Homo sapiens: one gene and its partner. The protein of the gene in region 1 purifies or fractionates together with the protein of each later gene. This does not show direct contact. Each region holds a gene or a part of one and is shown in the gene's direction. Other genes may lie near its edges.

Evidence for each region. The genes of interacting proteins can lie anywhere in the genome.
Region 2: the proteins of MECOM (region 1) and NUP205 purify together in Homo sapiens (affinity purification with mass spectrometry, with the first as the bait; 2 studies listed by BioGRID). This does not show direct contact.

The regions. Positions count from the first base shown.
Region 1 is NC_000003.12:169,086,284-169,094,614, reverse strand, and holds part of MECOM (histone-lysine N-methyltransferase MECOM), read left to right. Parts: intron 1-1,512; coding exon 1,513-1,657; intron 1,658-4,378; coding exon 4,379-4,615; intron 4,616-5,431; coding exon 5,432-5,615; intron 5,616-8,331.
Region 2 is NC_000007.14:135,574,370-135,582,700, forward strand, and holds part of NUP205 (nuclear pore complex protein Nup205), read left to right. Parts: intron 1-1,900; coding exon 1,901-2,045; intron 2,046-2,599; coding exon 2,600-2,759; intron 2,760-3,426; coding exon 3,427-3,655; intron 3,656-4,381; coding exon 4,382-4,546; exon of another isoform or gene 4,547-4,557; intron 4,558-8,331. UniProt on the Homo sapiens protein: Plays a role in the nuclear pore complex (NPC) assembly and/or maintenance. May anchor NUP62 and other nucleoporins, but not NUP153 and TPR, to the NPC.

The DNA.
Region 1 (8,331 bases):
GTTAAGACTGGGAATATGAGACTATTGACATGATCAGAGCAACCCATAGCAAATGATAGTAGTGCTTTGTTTTTGTCACAAATTCTTATATGAAAGTAAGATAAAAGTAACTGGCATAAAACTAGACTTTTCTTAACTGGGACCTTGCCAGCACATATTTAGCAGAAGGGATTGTAGGTTTTCTAGTCTTTGGCTTCCAATAGTTAGATAATAAGTCATTAAGTAACATTTGCCAGCTGGCATATGTGTGCAGAGCCAACCTGTGCAGTCACAATTTGTCTCCAGAGAATAAAGGTTATGCTTTGGGGGTAGGGGAGGAGAGATACAGAATTCAGGCAAAGAGATTTAAGAACAGAAAAAATTTGGATTAATACAGACTAGCAATCTTTATTTATGGAATTTTTTAATTATTAATCTTTCTTCCCCTATAAAGGCACATTATTTATGATCTTGTCTGATTAGTACTTAAAAGTATATACTGTTCGTCTCCCTCAAAGTCAGCAATTTAATGATCATAGTTTTAAAATATTAGATTTTAGGTAGAGAAGTATAATCCAATGTGCAAAACTGGCCACTCTAACTGTGTGTACCCTTATAGCATACAACTATAATTTTCTTATCAAAGTTATTTTAAGAAAAAAGGTTAAACATGTAACATGTCAAAGTTAATACTTTTTGACCAAGATTGTAACCTCTTTTAGGTGAGGGGATGTTCTAACCTCCTGTTTTTGTCATATAGACTATTGTGATGAACTATTATATTACAGATACTTTGTAGGCAAGATAAACAACAGGAAGCTAATGTTGGTGTAAAGCTCAACCACATATAAAGTGCTTAAGTGTAAAAGTGGTTTAAGTTTATGTAAGCCTTACACCAATCCAGTGATACGGGTATTGTGAGTCTTGCAGTGCATAGGCAAGGAAGGGGAAGATCATCCTGTAATCAGCATATCTAATATTGTCCTTTTAATACTGCACCAACCCCTGGACTGGAGTGTTCTGAGTCAACTCACAGCTTCGCCCAGCAAACCAGGATGCAGAATTTTCAGTGTGCCTTTAAACTGTATTTTGTTATATGCTTTAGCATAGTAGCCAAAAAATAAATAAATAAATAAAAAGGCATGTTGACTGCAACCAGGACTTCATATAGAGTGTCTCTTGGCAGAATCTATTTAAAACTTGTTCATAATTTGTCTCACTCTAAATTCTCATTATGTGAATACAAATATTCTCATGTCACAATAGAGGTAAGGAAAAGCTAGTGAGAGAAGCACCTTCTTTGCGAGACTGTACTTCATGATTTCAGTGGTTCAATATATTCCCAAAGGACCGTCATGGGCATGTGTATTATGGTAAACTGGGGAGACTTTGACTTTCTAAAGTTATTATTATTAATATTCATAGGGCATGTTTTAAGAAACAGCACTGATCAAATTCATAAGGAGTGAGTTTCCAAATAAGTTGCTAGATAAACAATAATCTTTGTCATAAAAGGCTTTCTGCTCCACACAGGTACAGCAACATCGTCGCCTCATTCTGAACTGGAAAGTACAGGTGCGATTCTGGATGACAAAGAAGATGCTTACTTCACAGAAATTCGAAATTTCATTGGGAACAGCAACCATGGCAGCCAATCTCCCAGGAATGTGGAGGAGAGGTAAAGCTGTCTTTTACTTTTTAAACTCTGTGACGACTGAAATGAACATGTTTTAAAATATACTTGCTATGCTCACTTTTGTGGCACTACTATTACTTCAGTCACCAAAGACTGGTATATATTTAGTACATATTAAATACCACATTAAATGCTTCCAAGCATTTTACATGTGTTAATTAATTTAATTTCATCATAACCCTATGAGATAGCCACTATAATTTTAGCAGTGAAGGAATGGAGACATTGAAGCTTAAACCATTGTGTCAGAGGTCACATAAGTAATCAATGGGATTCAACCTGAGCTCTCTGGTTCCAGAGCCCATAATTTTACCAGGATTTAGCTATCTGATAGCTGAATAGAATCTGTTATCAAAATTTCAGAAGTAGAAGAGAAAGCCGTCACAGGGATTCAGTTGAATCACTGATCAATAGTGGCTACTATTATACATCATAAATTATATATATTACAGGTAATATATGATTCTATATACCTGTATTATACATAAATACATATATGTATATTCTGTATATATGTAATATACATATTATAGTACATATGTATGTATGCATTTATATATGAAATACCCATGGAGTTTCCCCCAAATATATTTTACATAGAAGCTTTTATAGTCTTCTTAAGATTCTATTGCTACTTTATGTCCTCTTAAGTGACTACTCATTTAATTCTGGTCTGTTTGTTTCAGTGGGTATGAACATCCTTGTTTTTACTGCCCTGATGCACTGGCTCCCTTTTATCATCACCAACATTAAGCATGAATAGCTTAATTCATTTAAAAAAGCTTTTAATGCTGTTAATGATAATACTTAACAGTTACCCAGCACTTCACATTGCATATGAAGTTAATGAAACACTATTTCACCAAAACTACTGGATTTAATTTTTCTTATCTGTAAGCTATAATTAAATATCTATTGTTGAGAAGTAGACTTTTCTGAACACGACTATATAGTGACCTATTAAATTCAGATGCTACATTGTAAATTTCAAAATAACATGAAATTAGTTAAAAGTTCCATTATTTTTCATCATACAAGTATTATTGGATTAGTGTCCTCTGTTTTTGATGTTATCAAAAGTCAAAATTAATTATTTTATGTAATTTTTTCAAGGCAAACATCAAATAAACATTTTTTACTAAAATAACAAAAAAAATGACCACTTCTGTTTTTCAACTTGTATAAAAGTGTATCAAAGAAAAACAAGAAAAAAGACCCTTCCAGTCTCTGAGAAGTCTGATAACTACACCAGTGTGCAGTTGGATGTACCTTTCCCTTTACTTGCCCATTTGTGTGTGTGTGTGCGTGTCTGTCTGTCTGTTTGTGAAAGGGAGAGAGGAAGCAGATGATCAGAAGGACAAAGTAGCAAGAACAAGCAAGAAACAGTGACGATCTTATACTTTGATAATGATATTTACTTGATGCAAATAAGAACTGTTGAACAAAACACACCATTTGGGTTCTGAGATGCCTATTCAAATTTTCTAGCCTTTAATTGGCGATTTGTGAGCCTGTATAGTTGCAACATCTGGCTTCAGCATGTCTAAACAGCACAGAAATAAGAAGGTTGAGTCATCTAAGTTTTTCCCCTGAACTCCTACCAGGCTACTTTTGATGAATAATTTATTCTCTGTAAATTGCCACATTTGAAAACTTAATTAACAAATAGATTTTCTTAATTATGTTGGCTTTTGTTACTTTTGATTTTCATCCATGCACTCTTTTTGTTCTTTTACTTTTTCTTTCTTTTTTTTAAATAAAAATTTTAATCCACTCATGCAAGCAAGTTGGCAGTGTGTTTGGAAACTAATTTATGTCTGTGCAAAAGATGTTTTCACCATTCTTTGATAAAAGAGGTTAAGCGATTGTTTTTATTAAAAGCTTAATAATGATATGACTTTTTCTGGTCAAATGGATTTTTACTATGTGTGTTTGTCACATCCAAGATTGTTTTATTTATTTTTTAATCCTGGGAAATCTGAATATTAAATTATACTCATTTTTGTTATGTGGGAAAGTGATGGGGGTACATTGTAATACCTGAGCTTTTTCCACCCTGGCGTTTTCCTGAGAAACAAGGAACTATTTCACATTCAGACTGTAAAAAATAATTTGAAAATAGTACAAATAAGTGAGCTGTCAATTACTTCCAAATATGGGTAGAGTGGTTAGGTGGAATGTACCACAAATGTCATCTAGTATCAGTAAATACCAGTTGTTTCTTGGTAACTACTTTAACATTGTCTTTGGACTTTTAGAGTCACTTTAGGCATGTGTATTGTAGCTACGGCCCATGAGTGATATGAATTTTCCAGAAATCTATTATTTTAAATGGTGGGTACTTACATGGCAATTAGGTAAATTGTGCTGAGAACATACTTATGTGCCTTTTTATATGATATATATAGCAATATCAATTATCAAGCAAAGTCTGATAAGAAATGGGAGACCAAGATTGTTTTTCGGGTTCTGCCAGAGGCTTCATTTATAATCTGAACAATCATACAATTATTTTTTTCTTTATCTTCCCATTTGTGAAGTCACATTATTTTTTCATGGTTGACGTAGAGCATAAACAATAAAACATTTCCGATGTTAAGTGTTGAAAATCTAAACTGTTGTTGGGAAGACATAATAAAGGAACAAATTACAATTTTAAAAATGAAACCAACAATTGGACTTTTTTTTTAATGCTTTTGAAAGAATGAATGGCAGTCATTTTAAAGATGAAAAGGCTTTGGTGACCAGTCAAAATTCAGACTTGCTGGATGATGAAGAAGTTGAAGATGAGGTGTTGTTAGATGAGGAGGATGAAGACAATGATATTACTGGAAAAACAGGAAAGGAACCAGTGACAAGTAATTTACATGAAGGAAACCCTGAGGATGACTATGAAGAAACCAGTGCCCTGGAGATGAGTTGCAAGACATCCCCAGTGAGGTGAGTACCTTGGGTGACTTTAGAAACTAAGCTAGAGTAGATCCATGTACGGTTGCAATTCCTCCTGTGATAAGCAATTTGTGAGTTATAAATCACAAAAATTAAACTTGAATTAGTAAGGGATACATGGTGGATCAGATTTAAATAGATGAAAATAAGGTGGCTATCAACATAATCCACAAGCATATAAATACATCAGGTTTGGTGCAACTCTGATTAACCTGAGGTGGGAAAGATAAAATGAAAATTACATAAGTACACAATCATTTATTGTTAGACTCTACCTATAAAACTCAAAGAAAAATAGAGATTTTGACGTTATCTAATTATACAATAATCTGGCATGGTCATCAGTTAAGTATAATTGAGATAAACTTCACTTCAGTAGATATATATGTGATCTATATAGATGATAACTTTTTAAATGAAAAGAAATAACCAAACAGTTAAATTGATGGGACTATTATATTTTCATGATGGATGTTGACTAAATATTGTCATAATTAGCTTTACTTTAAATGGAAATAATGAATATATGAATTCTGTCTCTGCCTATTACTGACTAATGTGTCACTGACTTTAACTCTTTATCTCAAATATATGCTTGGCTTTAGTTACTAAAAATCTTAACAGAAATATATTTTTAAGACATGATGTTTGTAAGTATTTATAAAAACCCAATAATTGATGCATGCTACTTTACCTTGCAGATACAATATGAAGTTTGTCAGTTGTATAGATAGATTCAAATGAAAGTGATTTGATTAGATAACAAATGAAAAGAAAATTTCTGTGTTTTTCGTTGGTTCATTTTAGGTATAAAGAGGAAGAATATAAAAGTGGACTTTCTGCTCTAGATCATATAAGGCACTTCACAGATAGCCTCAAAATGAGGAAAATGGAAGATAATCAATATTCTGAAGCTGAGCTGTCTTCTTTTAGTACTTCCCATGTGCCAGAGGAACTTAAGCAGCCGTTACACAGAAAGTCCAAATCGCAGGTACAGATTTTCCCATAGTACAGCATCATGGTTACATTATGCATGAAACGTACATTTCCTTTGATTACCAAAAAGCAAATATTCTATCTTTGAAATATTTTAGAATCCAAATGGGGTCAGATGCCTTTCTAAAAATGTTCATATCTTTACTGTATTTATGACCAAATCCAAAATAGTTAAGCAAGAAAGCAATTAATTTAGCTGCATTCTGTATAGAAATTTTATGACAAGCCCCATCCTACACTTATCTTTCCTTGACTTTGCAATTCTCTTACTTTTGTACAGTTAGTTCATCATGTTTGTTTACAAATATTTATGTATTACCTCAGAGTCATTTTCCGTGTCTATACTTTTGTCAATGTAATTATATTTTAAGATTTTTCTGAAAAGTGAATTCTATTTTTTGTCCCCTTCTATGTCTAGTAAATTGTTAGGTGTAGTTAATTAGCAAGTCATCTCATGTTGTAATTTAATAGTAAAATGAGGATCAGAAAGGAAGTGAGTTGCCAAAGGTCTACACCAACTTACTGGCAGATTTGGAAATAAAACCTGTCAATTTAAATTCAACAAATGAATGAGTGAATGAATGGTACTCAAATTTATTAGGCTCTACAACATTGTATCAGCACTATGGTAACTAAAAATAAATCTATTTAAGGGTCCATAAATAGCAATTAAAAGAGCCTCAGTGTTTTTGTTACAAAATAAAGGAAGTCGGTACTTTTTTGTTTGACATCCACACTCAACCGGATTGTTCATTCAGGTCAATTAAAAATAAAGAAACTTCCTATTACCATATTTATTGGGCACTGTGGTCTAATTGCCTGATCCATTAGTTCATTTTGTATGTGGCCTGACCTGCAATGTGACCATATTAGTTTGTACATTTGGAAATGATTTTCTATTTGGGTAAGATGTCTGGGTTTGTCTTAACAGCAAATGTAATAATATCCCAAGGAAGTTGGGAAAAACATTGTGTCAATGGGATAATACAAATCATTAAATAATATTCAATTTAGTAAAAAGTTCTGAGATATTATGTATGGTAATAGGTAAAATAAATGTTCTTTCTCAACTGAAGTTAAAGCAGCCACCATCTACAGAGGCTCCTAGAGCCTACCTCCATGAACTTAAGAACATCACTTAAAGACTATAGGTACCATTTCTTCATTGTAAAAGGGGTAAGTGGATTTTTATTCAATGGGGATAAAAATGAAGTTTCCAGTTTTTAACATTAAAGGTAAACTAGCTAGAGTAGACATTTCATTTTTACTTAGAGACATCCATAAGGGGTGGCTAGTATTTTTTTTTAACCCTTGATTTCCCATTCTTCCATCCTTGTTGATTAGAGATAACTTGAGTATCAAGGTTTTTGGTTTTTTGTTACTTGTTTCTTTGTTTTTGAGACAGGGTCTCACTCAGCTGCTAAGACTGGAGTGCAGTGGTGCAATCACGGCTCACTATAGCCTCGACTTGCTGGGCTCAAGTGATCCTCCCACCTCAGGCATCTGGATAACCGGGACTATTGACACTCACCACTATGCCAGGCTAATTTTTCAATTTTGTGTAGAGATGGGGTTTCACTATGTTGCCCAGGCTGGTCTCAAATTCCTGAGCTCAAGCAATCCTCCCACCTCAGCCTCCCAAATTACTGGGATTTGTATAGGTGTGACCCATTGCACCTGGCCATGGTTTTTTCTTTTTAAATTTCTTTTAATTAGTCCACCAAAAATGCTTCTTATTTATTGTAAGATATAATACCTAAACACTCCAGAAACTGCCAGAAGTGACAGAAAGCAAAAGGGCCTGAAAACCTACAGATAAGGGATATAATTATAATACATTTTAGTACCAGCATTTTGACATAAAGTCCCAACCCAGCTGGACTGTTACTGTTATAAGAAACACTAGCATTTTGCAATCCTAAGTCATATTTTTCTTGTTACTTGATCATGTTATATAGATTAGTTTGAAAATGGTCAGGCCCTTTTGCAAATTCACTTTATTTCATAATATCATTCATTCGTTCATTTATTAACTACCAGCTATATGCTGGGCACTGATCCTTATATATGAAAATGTTTATTTCCTTTGATTACCAAAAGGCAGATATGCTGTTTTGCCATTTTCTAGAATCTAAAGGCTCAGATGCTTTAGTCAAAGCATTCATATATTTATTCTGTAATTTTTATAGTCTGTAATTTTTATAGTGATTGAATTGAAAATAGTTGACCAGTACAATAGTAGCTGCATTTTGCATGTGCTCTCCCTCAAGAAACTCTATCCGGTAAAAATTAATTTCATGGTAATAGGTACTATTTATGTATTACCTCAGTCAGGCACACTGAGCTAAACACTTTATGTAAGTTAGTGCATGTGATTCCTCCACAACTCTTGGAGGCCAATACTGTTATTACTATCATCTGTTTTATAGGAGGAAAGTAAAGCTTAAAAGGTTAAGCAACTTGCTCAAGATCACACAGCTAGGTGAGTAGAGGCAGGTTTAAAGGCAGGATTAAAATTTAAATTCCAAAATTTTCTTTGTACTCCTTTTTATCTTCCCAAATATCAGAATTTGTTTTAACTCTTTCAGAGTACTCTTTATCTTGTTCTCTAAAAGTAGGTACATAATCAGAATAGATAATTTAGGTTGAATGCTCACTTAACCCATACTTTAAACTCTGCCAAAGATAAGTACTCTATATTATTTATTCTT
Region 2 (8,331 bases), on another chromosome or scaffold:
TGAGATATAGAGAGGTGGAGGCTGGCTAGTGCAACTCTAAGTAGGATCCGTAGAGAAGGCCTCTCTAAGATGGTGTCATTTGCCTTGAGACCCAAATGATGAGAAGGTGCCAGCCACCCAGACCTATTGGGTAAGGCTTTTCCGGGGAGAGCAAGCAGCCAGTGCTTGAGGTGGGAATAAAGGCGTGTTTAAGGATAAAAAGATCATTGTGGCTAGAGCATCATAAATGAGAGGGAGAGCAAAGGAAGATGCAGATACAGCAGGAATCAGAGCATGTTTGATTTTGCATGATAATGAAAGGTATTTGGATTTTATTCTAATTGCAATAGAAAGTTGTTGATGAGGGCTTTAAGCAGAGACATTACATAATTCATTCTAACTCTGAAATTATTTCTCTGGCTGCTGTGTAGAGAAAAGAGAGAAAAATTTCTATACTATAAGCAGTTTGTTTTAATTATAATGGAGGAGCCATTTGAAGAAAATATGGGCATGTTAGTTGAACAAAAGTTTAATATGTCTAAAGATAATATATGGCTACCAAAATCCTTTTTGACCTAAGCCTGCACTAAAAGAAGTATGATATTGAGAATGAGGGGGATGTTCACTAGACATGCTTGAGTTTTGAGTTTAACTCGGAACTTTCATTTAACAAACATTTCTTCTATACCTACCATGTGCCAGGCATGGTGTTAATTATATCACTCCAGTGATATAAAGATGAATAAAATCTCAACTAGTGTAAATACGCTCATATTCTAATAATTGAGAATGATGTGGAAACAAATATTTTGACACAATTAAGTACAATTAATGCAGTTTTGTGCAAGATTTAGAGATGGTCCAGAGATTTAGAGATGGTATTAGATGGACCTTGATTGTACAGAGAACTCTTAACAACATCATGAAGTTTAAGGTAGATGTTGCAAAATGAGTAAGCATACATCAGGTGGAATAGGTGGTTATTTGGGAGGATGAAGGGCATCCAGGCAGAAGAAATTGCCTGTGCAAGAGGGTGAAGCAAGGTGATGAATTTGGGGAACAGAAAGGAGTAGAGTGGAGGAGTAGTTGCAGTAAGGGGAAAAGAAAGCTTTAGGAAATGAAACTGAAACTATAGGCAAAGTACTCTTAAAAAAAAAGTGAAACTTAGCCAGGCGTGGTGGCTCACACCTGTAATCCCACCACTTTGGGAGGCCAAGGCAGGTGGATCACGAGGTCAGGAGTTCAAGACCAGCGTGGTCAACATGGTGAAATGCCATCGCTACTAAAAATACAAAAATTAGCTGGGTGCTATGGCAAGTGCCTGTAATCCTAACTACTCAGGAGGCTAAGGCAGGAGAATTGCTTGAACCTAGGCGGCAGAGGTTGCAGTGAGATCACGCCACTGCACTCCAGCCTAGGTGACAGAGTGAGACTCCATCTCAAAAAAAAAGGTAGAACTCATTCAAAGGAGAGTAGTTAAAAGGTGACTGAACTTGAATTATAAAAAGGTTGTTTATTCAGAGAAGATTCCGAGGGAAGAAACTTAGAAATATTTGAAAGATTCCATATGAGATAGTAAAATGGGCATTGAATAAAATTAAATTTAGTGGACAACAGTGAGACCAAAAGATTCTCACCCAGTATGTAGAAATCACAGGTAAGTGTGAGAGTTAGAAATTGAGAGTTTGGAAAATGGTGAATTCCATGTCCCTGCTGGTGTTTAGGGATAAGTTGGATGGCCCTCGAATATGTTGAGCAAGAAGTTAGACAGTGGATGGATGTTTGTAGTAGAGGACCCCAGGGCCCCTTAAGCCCTGAGCTACTGTGATTCTTTGAACTGAACATTGTTATATTGATTTTTGTCTCCTCCTAAACACATACGTGTTTATTAACAATATTATTTCTCAACTTCCTTTTTTAGGAGAGCATCAACAGCCACATTTTCCTGGCCTTACCAGAGGATTAGTAGCTGTTCTTCTGTACTGGGATGGAAAGCGATGCATTGCGAATTCCTTGAAAGCCTTGATACAGTCTAGACGGGGAAAGACATGGACCCTAGAACTCAGGTCTTTTTACTTCTTGGGATTTCAGGGGTTAATTTGAAATTACTTGAAGTATGACAATATTTCCCTTATTATATACAATCTGAGCAATATGTAACATAAGCTGAGTAATATACTCCCTTATTCTGCCAAGACAGATATAACAATTTAAACCTGTTTTATTGTGTTTATAAATAAAAAATAATTTGGACCGAGGTGCAGTGGCCCAAATTATTTTTGGATTACAAAGTGCTGGGATTACAGATTACAGTCTTGAGCTCAGGAGTTTTAGATCAGCCTGGGCAACATGATGAAATCCCATCTCTACAAAAAATAGAATAATTAACTGGGCATGATGGCATGCACCTGCAGTCCCAGCTACCTGGGAGGCTGAGGTGGGAGAAAGACCTGAGCCTGGGACGTCAAGGCTGCAGTGAGCCATGATCACGCCACTGCACTCCAGCCTGGGTGACAGAGCAAGGCCCTGTCTCAAAAAAAGAGCGTTTGCTATACCTATTATTATGAAGAAGCATAAACAATATTGTTTAACGTAGTTTATTGATTTCTTTTCATTACAGTCCAGAGCTGGCTTCCATGACAACACGCTTTACAGATGAGCTGATGGAGCAAGGATTGACTTATAAAGTTCTTACGCTGGTGTCACAGATTGATGTGAATAATGAGTTTGAGAAACTACAGCGAGAGAGAGGTTTGGGCAGTGAAAAACATCGCAAAGAGGCAAGGGTTCAATGAAATCAATTCATGAGTTGTCTGTCAAATCTCAGAGGCAGAAACATGACAATTAGAATGTTCATTTTTTCAAGATGAATTATGTAGCTGATACCATGCCTGATTGCCACTTTTCTTTTTTTTTGCTTTTATTATTTTTCATTGACACAAAACTGTACATATGTATAGGGTACAGTGTGGTATTTTGATACATATGTATGATATGTAATAAATCATAATTAGCATATCCATCACCTCAAACGTTTATTATTTCTTTGTGTTGGGAACATTCAAAATTCACTGTACTACTGTTTGACAGTACAGTATACAATAAATTGTTAATTGTAGTCAGCTCGTAATGTATATTAAAGTTTGTAGTCAGCTGTGTCCATAAAATTGACTTGCAGTTGTTTCAGCTTCGGTATAGTCATTTATGTGCCATTCTAGCTCTTTTTATGAAATGAACAAGAAATTGGTCATCCCAATTTCTTAAGGAACTTAAGGATAAGGAATAAACAATAGGGTTTGTTCAGAATTCCAGAGGTGACGTCTTAGGATCACTTGTGGATTTTGATAGGTTTTTTTATTAGCCTTTGTAAAAGGTAGTTTGTACTTTGGAATAAGACCAGGCTTCACTGTAATTTATTTATACTGATAGTCATGTTTTTATTTCTAGGTTTCTGATCTCATTAAGGAGTGCAGGCAGTCTCTTGCAGAAAGCCTTTTTGCCTGGGCTTGCCAGTCACCTTTAGGCAAAGAAGACACTCTCCTCCTCATTGGACATTTGGAAAGAGTGACAGTTGAGGCTAATGGCTCACTGGATGCAGTGAATCTGGCTCTTCTTATGGCGCTTCTATACTGTTTTGATATCAGTTTTATAGAGCAAAGCACAGAGGAACGAGATGGTATTGAGTTTTATACATTTTCCTACATTAAAAAAATCAGATTTAAAATTGTGGGGATAACATTTAAAAAGGGTGATATTTTAGCTACTAAAATAGTCTGCTCTGTTCCTGTGTTTGCAGTCCGTTCATATTTGAATATTTATATATAAGATCACATTTAAAAAACAGCTGCAGTCCTGTTAATTATTTCTGTTTTTTGGGGGGATTTGGAATGGAAAGTATTAAAGCATATATTATACATGTTCATGATTGCACATGCCTAATTTACTTAATTGCTTGTTTCTTTACCATTCATTTACATTTTCAAACTTTTTATTAAAACATTCTGAGACAGTGACTGTCATTTCAGTAATGTAATCTTTGATCTGTGTTTTCTGTGAAGTAAATAAAATTTTTGTGATCTTTAGATAGCATGATTTCTATTTTAGAATTTATGTGCAGAAAAAATGAGTGTCTAACTTTTTTCTTGTTTATTTGTAGTACACTTATAAAAATGACTGAAAATAGTGAAATTGAAATTTAGGATTATTGTCATTTTCTTTTTTTGTTTTTAGTATGTGTACAATCAACAGTAGTGTACCTTTTGGGATGTAGAAATTAATGTTAATTGGTCATTATTCTTCTGTGAGAATGCTCAGATTTTCTGACTTTTGGATATTATTCCTGTGTATCAGAAGTGAGAATTTATCTGGTGATCGGTAAAGTGGTCTATTTTTGTGTTTTCAGATATGATTCATCAACTTCCACTGTTGACAGAAAAACAGTACATTGCAACAATTCACTCTCGTCTTCAGGACTCACAGCTTTGGAAACTGCCTGGGCTCCAAGCCACTGTTAGACTTGCCTGGGCGCTGGCATTGAGGGGAATATCCCAGCTACCTGATGTGACAGGTGAATTGATTGTAGGTAATTTTGTTATGAGAAACAGCATGTTAGCACTTAATGACATTTTTGGAAGGAGTATTATCTTTGACATACATAAGCATAAGCATAGGAAGATATCCAGAGTTGTATTAAATGAAACCTTTAGTGTAGTAGTGAAATACAGACTTTTTTCTCCTTGTCTCTCAAAAATATCATATGAAATACTATTTCCCATTCTTGGAGCCACTGACAATGCTCTTTTACCTTCAGGGTATGAGTTTAAAATTTGGAATGACAGTGTCACATTAATTTTTTTTTTTTTTGAGATGGAGTTTTGCTCTTGTTGCCCAGGCTGGAGTGCAATGGCACAGTCTCGGCTCACTGCAACCTCTGCCCCCCGGGTTCAAGCGATTCTCCTGCCTCAGCCTCCCAAGTAGCTGGGATTACAGGCATGCGCCACCACACCTGGCTAATTGTGTATTTTTAGTAGAAATGGGGTTTCTCCATGTTGGTCAGGCTGGTCTTGAACTCCCGACCTCAGGTGATCCGACTGCCTTGGCCTCCCAAAGTGCTGGGATTGCAACACGTGAGCCACCCCGTCCGGCCTTAAATGTTTTTTAAAATTAAAATATACTATTCCTTTTATTTTTATATATTTTACTTCTTGATTTGTTCACAAACTAGTTTTTCACATTGTGTCAAATTAAAAACAGTTATTTTTCCATACAGTGTATTAAAAAGGAGATATTTGGATCAGTCAAGAACAGATGTGGAATCCCGACTTTTCTTTTTTGTGGCCCAGGCTGGAGTGCAGTGGCTCGATCCCGGCTCACTGCAACCTCCACCTACTGGGTTCAAGTGATTCTCCTGCCTCAGCTTCTTAAGTAATTGGACTACAGGCACACGCCACCACACCCGGCTAATCTTTTGTATTTTTAGTAGAAACAGGGTTTCACCATGTTGGCTGGGCTGGTCTCGAACTCCTGAGCTCAGGTGATCCACTTGCTTTGGCCTCCCAGAGTGTTGGGTTTACAGGTGTGAGCCACCGCGCCTGACCAGAATACTGACTTTTAACAACCTGTTAACTCACTGTAGCATATATTATTCTGCTATTTACATTTACATTATTTAATTGTCATATTAGTAGGGGTTTATTCTAACAGAATGAGAACCATACATGGAACACGAAGCCCAAAGAATTGTCTTTTTATGGTAAATCTAGAAAGGCTTTATTCAAGTTTACAATTTATGTCAGTTTTCTAATCCTAAAGTATCAACAGATTCTAGTATCTTATCAATCGTGTAATTCCAGAACATTTTGTTTTCACTAGTGTCATGCTGTTCCCAAGGTGTTTGCAGAAAGCTTTTTTTGTGTTAGGAGTCTTTCTTTGGCCAGTTAATTTCTATCTGTCTGTCATCTATATATCTAAATGCTGATAGCGAATTAGACTTTTACATTCCCGTACAAATTCTGTTTCTCACCTGTACGTACCCTCATCATTTATAAGTCTTATTTCACTACTTTTCTGACATAAAGTTACCCTTTAACCTTTGAAGTGGCTATGTGATAGTTAATATCTTCTTTTTTTATTTTGGAGATGGAGTCTCGTTCTGTTGCCCAGACTGGAATGCAGTGGCATGATCTCAGGTCACTGCAACCTCTGCCTCCTGGGTTCAAGCAATTCTGCCTCAGCCTCCGGAGTACCTGGGACTATAGTCGCACGCCGCCACACCCAGCTAAGTTTTTGTATTTTAGTAGAGACAGGGTTTCACCGGGTTGCCTAGGCTGGTCTCGAACTCCGGAGCTCAGGCAATCTGCCTGCCTTGGCCTCCCAAAGTGCTGGGATTACAGGCGCGAGCCACCATGCCCAGGTGTGATAGTTAATATATTAACTATATAATATAGTTATACATAGATAGTTATTATAATATTATGTAATATGGTCACAATCTTATGCTATAATTGCCCATACCACTGCACTAGTTTTGAAAGGTTTAATAGAATATGCTATAGTTTGCTGTAGAATAATAGTAAAAATAGGTTAGGAATCACAGCCCTAGTTTCAAGTCCCAGATCTTTGGCTACTTAATCTCTTTGATTTTATATGCTCATATCCTTTTATAAGCTTTAATAGTTAGGGGTATTATAATTAGAATTTTTAAACTATAAAAATTTTTCTGTTAATTTGCATTTTAAAAATTGTTAGAAAAAATGACTAGCTTGTGTTATTTTGCAGAAATGGTCACTTCTTGAAATAATCCAGACAAGTTTTAACGAAGATCTCCAATTTGAAAAATTGGTTTCTGTTCTCTTCATAGACTTCTGAAACTTTTATCAAATGTTTTTATTATATTATTCTATAAAAGGCATGAAGCCAGGTGCAGTGCCTCATGCCTATAATCCCAGCATTTTGGGAGGCCAAGGTGGGAGGATTGCTTGAGCCCAGGAGTTCATGACAAACCTGGGCAATGTAGTGATACCTCATCTCTTCAAAAAATTAAAAATTAGCCCAGTGTGGTGACATGCCCTTGGCTGTAGTCCCAGCTACGCAGGAGGCTGAGGCAGGAGGATCACTTGAGCCCAGGAGAGAGGCTGTAGTGAGCTGAAATTGCTCCACTGCACTCCAGCCTGGGTGACAGAGTGAGATCACATCTCAAAAAAAATTAAAAAAACAAGCATCGGCCGGGTGTGGTGACTCACGCCTGTAATCCCAGCACTTTGGGAGGATGAGGCAGGTGGATCGCTTGAGGTCAGGAGTTCAAGACCAGACTGGCGAACGTGGTAAAAGCCCATCTCCACTAAAAACACAAAAAATTAGCCAAGCATGGTGGCGCGTGCCTGTAATCCCAGCTGCTTGGGAGACTGAGGCAGGAGAATTGCTTGAACCTAGTGGGCAGAGGTTGCAGTGAGCTGAGATCATGCCACTGCACTTTAGCCTGGGTGACAGAGTGAAACTCTGTTTCCAAAAAAAAAAAATCAACAAAAAAACCAAGCATTTTTGTAATTTCACTAAGCTTTACAGAATTTTAGCATACTGTTTTTAGGCATTGAAACTCAATTTATATTAAGACAATGATGCCTTATTGCCTAAATGGTCTTCAAGAAGTAATTTTTGGCTGGGCATAGTGGCTCATGCCTGTAATGTCAGTGCTTTGGGAGGCTGAGGTAGTCAGATCACTTGATGTCAGGAGTTCAAGACCAGCCTGGCCAACAGGGCGAAACCTTGACTCTGCTAAAAATACAAAAATTAACTGGGTGTGGTGGCACATGCTTGTCATCCTACCTTCTCAGGAGGCTGAGGCTGGAGGATGGCTGAAACTGGGAGGCAGAAGTTGCAGTGAGTCAAGATCGCACCACTGCACTCCAGCCTGGGCAGCAGAGTAAGACTCTGTTTCAAAAAAAATAAAAGACGTAATCTTTGAGTTGATTCTCTTTTAATTCTGGTGTTTTTGAATTCAAGTAAAGGTTTGAAATAATTTGTTACTGTTACTGAAAATATTTAATAATTAGTAATTTTAGTAATTGTTATTACTAGTCATACCAAAGAATTAAGACAATATTTTATTCTCAAGGATTTTGTATAATATGGGTAGATAAGCACGTTTTTGTTTGTTTGAGATAGTGGCTTCCCTGTTGCCCAGGCTGGAGTGCAGTGGTGTGACCATGGCTCAGTGGCCTCAACCTCCAGGGCTCACATGATCCTTCCACTTCAGCCTCCCAAGTAGGTGGGACCACAGCTAATTCTTTGATTTTTTTGTAGAGATGAGGTCTCACTATGTTGCCTAGGCTGGTCTTGAACTCCTGGGCTCAA